2 linked regions of the Homo sapiens genome follow. The protein of the gene in region 1 purifies or fractionates together with the protein of each later gene. This does not show direct contact. Each region holds a gene or a part of one and is shown on either strand. Other genes may lie near its edges.

Region 1 (3,500 bases):
CAATCCTCACTGCAAATCTATAACATAGATATGCTCAGAATCCTTGTTTTACAGATGAGGCTCAGGGCAGTTAAGCAACTTGCTCAAGGTCACACAGCTGGTAAGTGGCAGAGCAGAGAAAGGCTCATTGGCTTGTCCCAACTCACACCCACAGGAAGCCAGACTCAGGCCTCTGAAGTTCACCATCCCAGACCCCACCATGTCCCATCTGGGTCCCTGGGGAGCTGTGGGAATATGGATCCTTGAATCTGACCAGGGGGTTCCTGGGTGCCTCTGAAAGGTCAGTCATTGTCTTTGCACTCTGGATGTTTTATAAGCTCCAGGGATAGTACATTTTACAAAAAAAAAATTATATATATATATATATATATACACACACACACACACACATATATATATAACTAATGAAATCTGAATAAAGTCTGTAGTTAATAGCATTGTACATTGTTCATTTCTTAGTGTTCATAATTATACTATGGGTATGCAAGATGTTAACATTAGGGGAAGCTGGACAATGGGTATATGGAAACACTGTGTTATTTTTGCAATTTTTTCCAAAATCTAAAGTTATTTCAAAATATAGTTTAAAAAGAGTCCCAGAGACATTTTTCTATAGGTTCACGCATTTTGTTTTATGTTTATACAACAGTTTTATTCTCTTTTCAAGCCTCTCAACCTCCAGCTCTGATATATGCCATTGATGACACCTATTGCACCTGACACGTGAGGCATCAATGTGGACTGGACTCTGTCCTTGCGGGCAGAGGGCCTGCAAGTTGGGCCCACCCTTTTATTTCCACCCGGGGAATTTCCTGGCTGTCCCTGCCTGCTCCTCTCCCCTTGAACCCAGGCGTGCCTCTACCTGGTAGTTGAGGTCTCTGACCTCCAGGGTGTTGGGCTGGCCACTGTAGGTGAAGTACAGGCTGTTGTCACTTTCAGAGGAGAACAATCTATCCTGGAGGCCCTGTGGGAGACAGGAGAGATGAGGGGCTCCTTTAGAAGCTGCTGAGAACATAGGAGAAGACAAGAAGGAAACCAACAGGTGAGAGCAACTTCTTAGAGCCGACGTGGTTAAATCTCAAATTGGCAACAGATGGGATTGCACAGGTGGAACCTCAGGGCTTTGGGAAAATAGGAGTGCTGACAAGGGCCCATCTCCTCTTCCCTTCAGAGAGAGGTTTGGGGCTTCTCCCGGGGCACCTTCCCAGAGAACCTCAACCTCAGGCTGGTGGAGCCTGAAGCCAAGCAGCTTCTGGTAAAGAGACCCAGACTCTGGACCGGAGAGAGTTCTATAAAAAAACCTCTGTGCTCTGAGAAGACCTGACTGGAGTGGGCAAACTCTTTGCCTTTAACTTTCTCTTCCCTGCAGCTGGCTTAATATCTCCTGAGGCCAAACAGACATGACACTTGCAGCATGTGAGAGGGAAGCAGCTGTTGAGAGTTAATGCCCAATATTCATGAAGATACCACCCTGAGAAAAATTCTAACCAACATCTTAGTCCTCACTAACATCTGGCATACTTCTCCTCATATCTGATTTTGATGAAGAGTTCATGCAACAAAGTGATGGAAAATGCTGCTGGGAGCTTTGAGAGGAAGTCCCTCTCATCATCATCATCATGTTGTTGTTATTGTCGAAGTGGTGGTATATTTGAATGTACATTAAAAAATCAATGTTTCATGGTGTCGGCTGATACCTTTGAATGGTATTAACCATCTGCAGATCTCAATTCCTCCTATTTTGACAATTCAATCATTTAAACCATTGAGGCCCAAACAAAGAAGCAACAGGAAGTCCCCCATCATTTCTTTTTCTTTGGATTGGGTCTCGCTCTATCACCCAGGATGGAGTGCAGTGACATGATCACAGCTCACTGCATCCTCAACCTCTCAGGCTCAAGCAATCCTCCCACCTCAGCCTCCCCACCACACCCAGCTAATTTTTGTATTTTTTGTAGAGACAGGGTTTCACCATGTTGGTCTCAAACTCCTGGGCTCAAGTGATCCACCCACCTCAGCATCCCAAAGTGCTGTGATTACAAGGGTGAACCACCTCGTCTGACCTCCATTTTTTACTGCATTCAATTTTTCTTACATTTCTGTCAGGCAGGAACAAGTACACTTTCATTAACAAGTTCCCATAGACTTTCCTCCTCAAGCTACCATTCTCACACTATACATTCCTTCAATCAACCATGCACCCAACAAACACTTATGGGGAGCCCAGAACACCCTTCAGGCTTGGAATTTGGGATGTGACAATGAAAAGGCCGTTGAAAAGCTTAGATTTTGGCAGATGAGACAGGTGATTACGATGGAGCGAGACAGACCAGGCAGAGAGGGAGGCTGACCTCAAGCATCTGACCAGGGTTTATTTTCACTATGTACACAATGCACGCACATGCTGTAGGTGAAACTAACATGACTTATGCCTTACGTGAAAATAACAAATAACATACAGCAGTCTTCTTGTCAAAGTACCCCTGCAATGATGGGGGCCAGAAGTTCTCGGAAAGAACATTCCAGGTCAGTGGAGGTGGAGGGAAAGAAATTCGGTGACAGTATGCCGCAGGCGTGCTGTGGGGAACCCTTAGAGTTCTGGGAGAGTATGAAAAACAGCAGACGAAAGTGACTTCCATTGCTTAATGTTTGAATTATCACCATAAAGACCCAAAATTATACAGAAAAAAATGGGAAAGATAAACACCTAATTCAGGAGAGGGGTTATCTCTGGGGAGCGGGGAGAGATGAAAGGAGAAAGGGGACACAGTAGGAGTGCGGGGATCAAGCTTCAAAGCTTTTGGTAATTGGTGGTGTGTACATGAGAGTTCTTTAAGCTGATTTGTGTACGATATTTCACAATATGTTGTCAAATTGAGAGAGCAAGCCAGTGAGTAGAACTCCAGAGTTCCATTCCCACCTCAACCCCAGTTGCCAAAGCCCCCAAGCAGGAGGGAGGTTGAGGGAGAGGAGGTAAGAAGGTCTGTGCCCCAAGCTCCTGAGGAGATTGAAAGCAGCTCGGACAGATGCTGGACTCCTGGCAGATCAGCCCTTCGGCCTTGCCCCTCACTCGCCCTCTCCGCTGTCACTGTGCACATTGCTTCATTGTCCCATTTTTGTTGTTGTTGTTGAATCATCAAAAAATCTTAGCCATTGCCAGCTGTGCGCAGTGGCTCATGCCTGTAATCCCAGCACTTTGGGAAGCTGAGGAGGGCAGATCACCTGAGGCCAGGAGTTCAAGACCAGCTTGGCCAAAACAGTGAAACCCTGTCTCTACTAAAAATACAAAAAAAAATTGCCGGGCATGGTGGCACACCCCTATAGTCCCAGCTACCCTACTCAAGAGGTTGAGGCAGGAGAATCACTTGAACCGGCAGGTGGAGGTGCAGGGAGCCGAGATCGTGCCTCTGCACTCCAGCCTGGGCCACAGCGTGAGACTCTGTCAAAAAAAAAAAAATCTTATCCATTTCTAAGAGACTCATGTGGGCTAACATGCATCT
Region 2 (3,500 bases), on another chromosome or scaffold:
AAATTCCCTCGGGCTTCTAACTCCCAACACTGTGGTTACCATTTTGTCCTGTAATTCCCTCATCTCATATGCTATTTTTTAAAAAAAGGATACTTCTGGCCGGGCACGGTGGCTCACGCCTATAATCCCAGCACTTTGGGAGGCCGAGGCGGGTGGATCACAAGGTCAGGAGATCGAGACCATCCTGGCTAACACGGTGAAACCCTGTCTCTACTAAAAATACAAAAAATTAGCCGGGCGTGGTGGCGGGTGCTTGTAGTCCGAGCTACTCGGGAGGCTGAGGCAGGAGAATGGTGTGAATCCAGGAGGCGGAGCTTGCAGTGAGCGAGATTGTGCCATTGCACTCCAGCCTGGGTGACAGAGCAAGACTCCGTCTCAAAAAAAAGAAAGAAAGAAAAAAAAGAATACTTCTGAGAAACAGACTCGGATGGTAATAGGTTTTAACAGCTTTCTTTTACACCTGCGAATCTTCCTCCTTGCTAGAACAGTGGTAAGTAGCCCCAGTTGTACTGGAAAATGCCCTGGAGAGCTTTTGGAAGTGCTGATACCCAGCCCCACCCTCGGAGATCCCGCTGTAATGGGTCCGGGCTGGCAGGCTGGGTGTGCTGTGAGAGTTCTGTGCTTTAAGCACTCCCAGGGTGATGTGAAAGTGCTGCTGCCCGGGACGCTCCACTGGGCTGGAAGGGCTGCCTCTGGCCACTGGGCAGAAGGGGGTTGTCCTTGGAGGATGGGGAAGAGGAGGCTGGGAATGCCTGAGACTGATTGAGCCAGTAAAGGGGCAGGAGGGACTGGGGAGAGGGGAGCCTCCTTCTCTGACACATCCACCCAGGAGCCTGGCTGCTGCCAGCTGTCTGCCCGAGTGGCTGGAGGCAAGAAACCCACTTCCCCAGGGCCTACCTGCAGGCCCCACACAGGCTCCGTGGTGGGTGGTGTGGACTGTAGAAATGTCTGCCTGCAGCGGGGCTCCGCGGCCCACTTCCCGCCCCCCTTCCTCTGTGCCTTCCCTGGTGGGGGAAGACCTACTCTGTGCCCAAAGAGCAGGTGCACAAAGGCCAGGGGTTGCCACCTGGTGGCCCAGTTGGAAGGATCTAGCAAACACACACCCAGCATTGAGGGCAGTGTCCCTTGGACCTGGTGTGGTATACCCTGTGCCCGTGGGAACATCATCCTTGGGCCTGGGGCCTGGGGCCACCCCAAGGAGCAAGGGGGCCCATGGCAGAGAACCATTCCTGCACCACTGGGGCTCAGCAGAGGGGCTCTGCTGCCTGGCCTGAGCTGTCCCTCTAGACATACCCACGCCCGGCCGGGGAAGCTGCTTGCCCTCTTCTGCCTCCCCACTGGTCCTGAGCCCCCTGCTACCCTCTAACCCAGGCCCAGACCCTCAGCCCTCAGGATAGGCTTAGGTGCAGAGCTGGCTCAGCTGTGCGATTGTAACCCCTCCCTCTGAGCCTCCATGTCCTGGTCTGGGAAGTGTTGTGAGGTTTGTAAAATGTGAGGTGTGGATGTGGCCCCAGGCTAGCCGGGGAAGAAGTGGGGATGGGACGTCCTGACCTAGACGTGGAGGCGGAACTCAGTCGCCAGACGGATGTTTCCTGTTGGCGTGAACACCAGGGGAGGAGTCATCCCTAGGTGGATATCCCCCCTGCCAGGCCCCAGGAGGCACCTGGAGCTTCCTGGGTGCCCTGTGGGGCCTGGGGGGGTGGGGACAGGGTGTGTGGTGTGTCGTGCTGGTGGGCCTCGGTGGTGGGCACACATTGTTCACTCAGCTGTCTCTTGTCTTCTCTATTTCTTTGGCTTCTCTCCCCGCCCCCCTTGCCCTGCTTTTGCCCGGGGTTTGGCCGCGGGCAGTGCCAACATACGGCCCTTACGGTAGGTCCCGCTCTTGGTCTGCATGTCTGTCCTGCATGTCAGTTCTGGTCACTGTCACTGGCATGCGTCTCTCTGTAGCTCTTCTCCGTGTCCTCATCTCCTCCCCACCGGCACCCCCTGGGTGGGAGCGCCCAGAGCACCTGTCAAGGGCCACCCTCTGTAGAGCTTGCCTGCTTCCGTCCTCGTTTCTCGTTCTGGAATATGCCCCGCCTTCTTCTGGGGGCACAGTGCTGTTCATGGGATATCGGGGCATTTCACGATGTTTCCAAGAGTTCACAAGCTGAGTCAGGAATCCTGGGTTCCAGGGGTGGGCTCGTCCCTTACATCCAGGTGTCCTGGGCCACCTTTCTGCTCTGAGCCCCTGAGGATGGGGACAGTTGATTAGAGAGATGAGGAGGAAGCCCTCTTAGAGGGAGCCAGTGAGTCGCATCTGCTCCCCTGGGGGTGCAGGCCAGCCTGGTCCTGATCTCCAGAGTAGAGGGAGCACAGCACTTCCCCCGGTGGTGGGGGACGCGCCTGGCACCTGTGGAACCGGGCACCCCTGGCTTCCAGGCCCTCTGGCCCCACATGCCCCAACTTCAGTCAGTGCTGAGCCTGCTCTGGCCTCTCTGGGGCATTCTAGGCTCACTGCCCATAGCTTGCCAGTCTCCACCCTGGGTCCCTTCCCTGCAGCCAGCCCAGCTCCCAGTGGGGGTTTATGTCTGCTCCTCTTCACAGTCCAGCCTCCCCTTGGGGCTCCCCAGCCAAAGAAGTCCATTTTTTCCTGCCCCTTCTCATATCCTGGACCCCATTCTCTGTCCCAGAAGGGATGGTTGAAGGGCATAGCTTTGGGTTGGGGGGTGTCTGTCCCAGGATCACGGGCAGGGGCTGAGCCACCTCCCTCTCACCGTCCCAGCCTCCTCACCTGCCCCTCCCGCTCCCTGCCCGGCAGGCCGCTGTGCCCCCATGAAGAGCATCTCCAGCAGCCTCAAGGAGACCATGAACCCGCACGACATCGTGCAGGACGCCATCCACAACTTCTCACCTGCCTACCAGCAGTACACGCAGCAGTCCACCCTGGAGCCTGGGCCCACCTGGCGTGGTGGCGCCCACGGCCTCTCCCGCTCCCACAGCCTCAGTGGCGCCCGCGACAACGAGAAGACTCTCCTGCTCAGCTCTGATGATGAATTCTAGGTGCGGGCTGCAGTGGCGGAAGTGCTGGCGCCATAGCCACGGTCAGGCTGTGCCCCACCTCCAGCCTCACCACCAGGCCAGGAGGCAGCTGGCACAGTGCTCACGCCGCCTTTATTTATTGGACCAGAAACACTCACATGTCACTTCCAGAGGAACGGGGGACAGCCAGGCTCGCCCATGGGCCTTCAGGAATATTTATACATGGCCCAGCCTGCACTGCCCGGGCGAGGGCAGAGGACACTGGGAGCAAGGCTTATGCCCCTGCTGCCCGTCCTGTGCTGGGGGCATGCTGGGACCAGCCGCACCCAGGCCCCAATGCTTGTGTGTGGACCAGCGGCTGCAGCCTTCTAGCCCCTCCTCCCCGCGAGACTCTCAGGCTGAGGTCGGCAAGCCGTGGCTCCCCCACACACCGTGCAATACCCTGTCTGACCTGGGCTCTTCCCGCCTGCATCCCTCCC

Evidence for each region. The genes of interacting proteins can lie anywhere in the genome.
Region 2: the proteins of ABCG8 (region 1) and TMEM184B purify together in Homo sapiens (affinity purification with mass spectrometry; one large-scale study listed by BioGRID and IntAct). This does not show direct contact.

Annotation. Positions count from the first base shown.
Region 1 is NC_000002.12:43,841,971-43,845,470, reverse strand, and holds part of ABCG8 (ATP-binding cassette sub-family G member 8), read right to left. Parts: intron 1,685-3,500; exon of another isoform or gene 1,370-1,684; intron 1,043-1,369; exon of another isoform or gene 965-1,042; coding exon 863-964; intron 1-862. UniProt on the Homo sapiens protein: ABCG5 and ABCG8 form an obligate heterodimer that mediates Mg(2+)- and ATP-dependent sterol transport across the cell membrane.
Region 2 is NC_000022.11:38,221,011-38,224,510, reverse strand, and holds part of TMEM184B (transmembrane protein 184B), read left to right. Parts: exon of another isoform or gene 1-32; intron 33-1,848; coding exon of another isoform or gene 1,849-1,869; intron 1,870-2,764; coding exon of another isoform or gene 2,765-2,800; coding exon 2,801-3,042; 3' UTR 3,043-3,500. UniProt on the Homo sapiens protein: May activate the MAP kinase signaling pathway.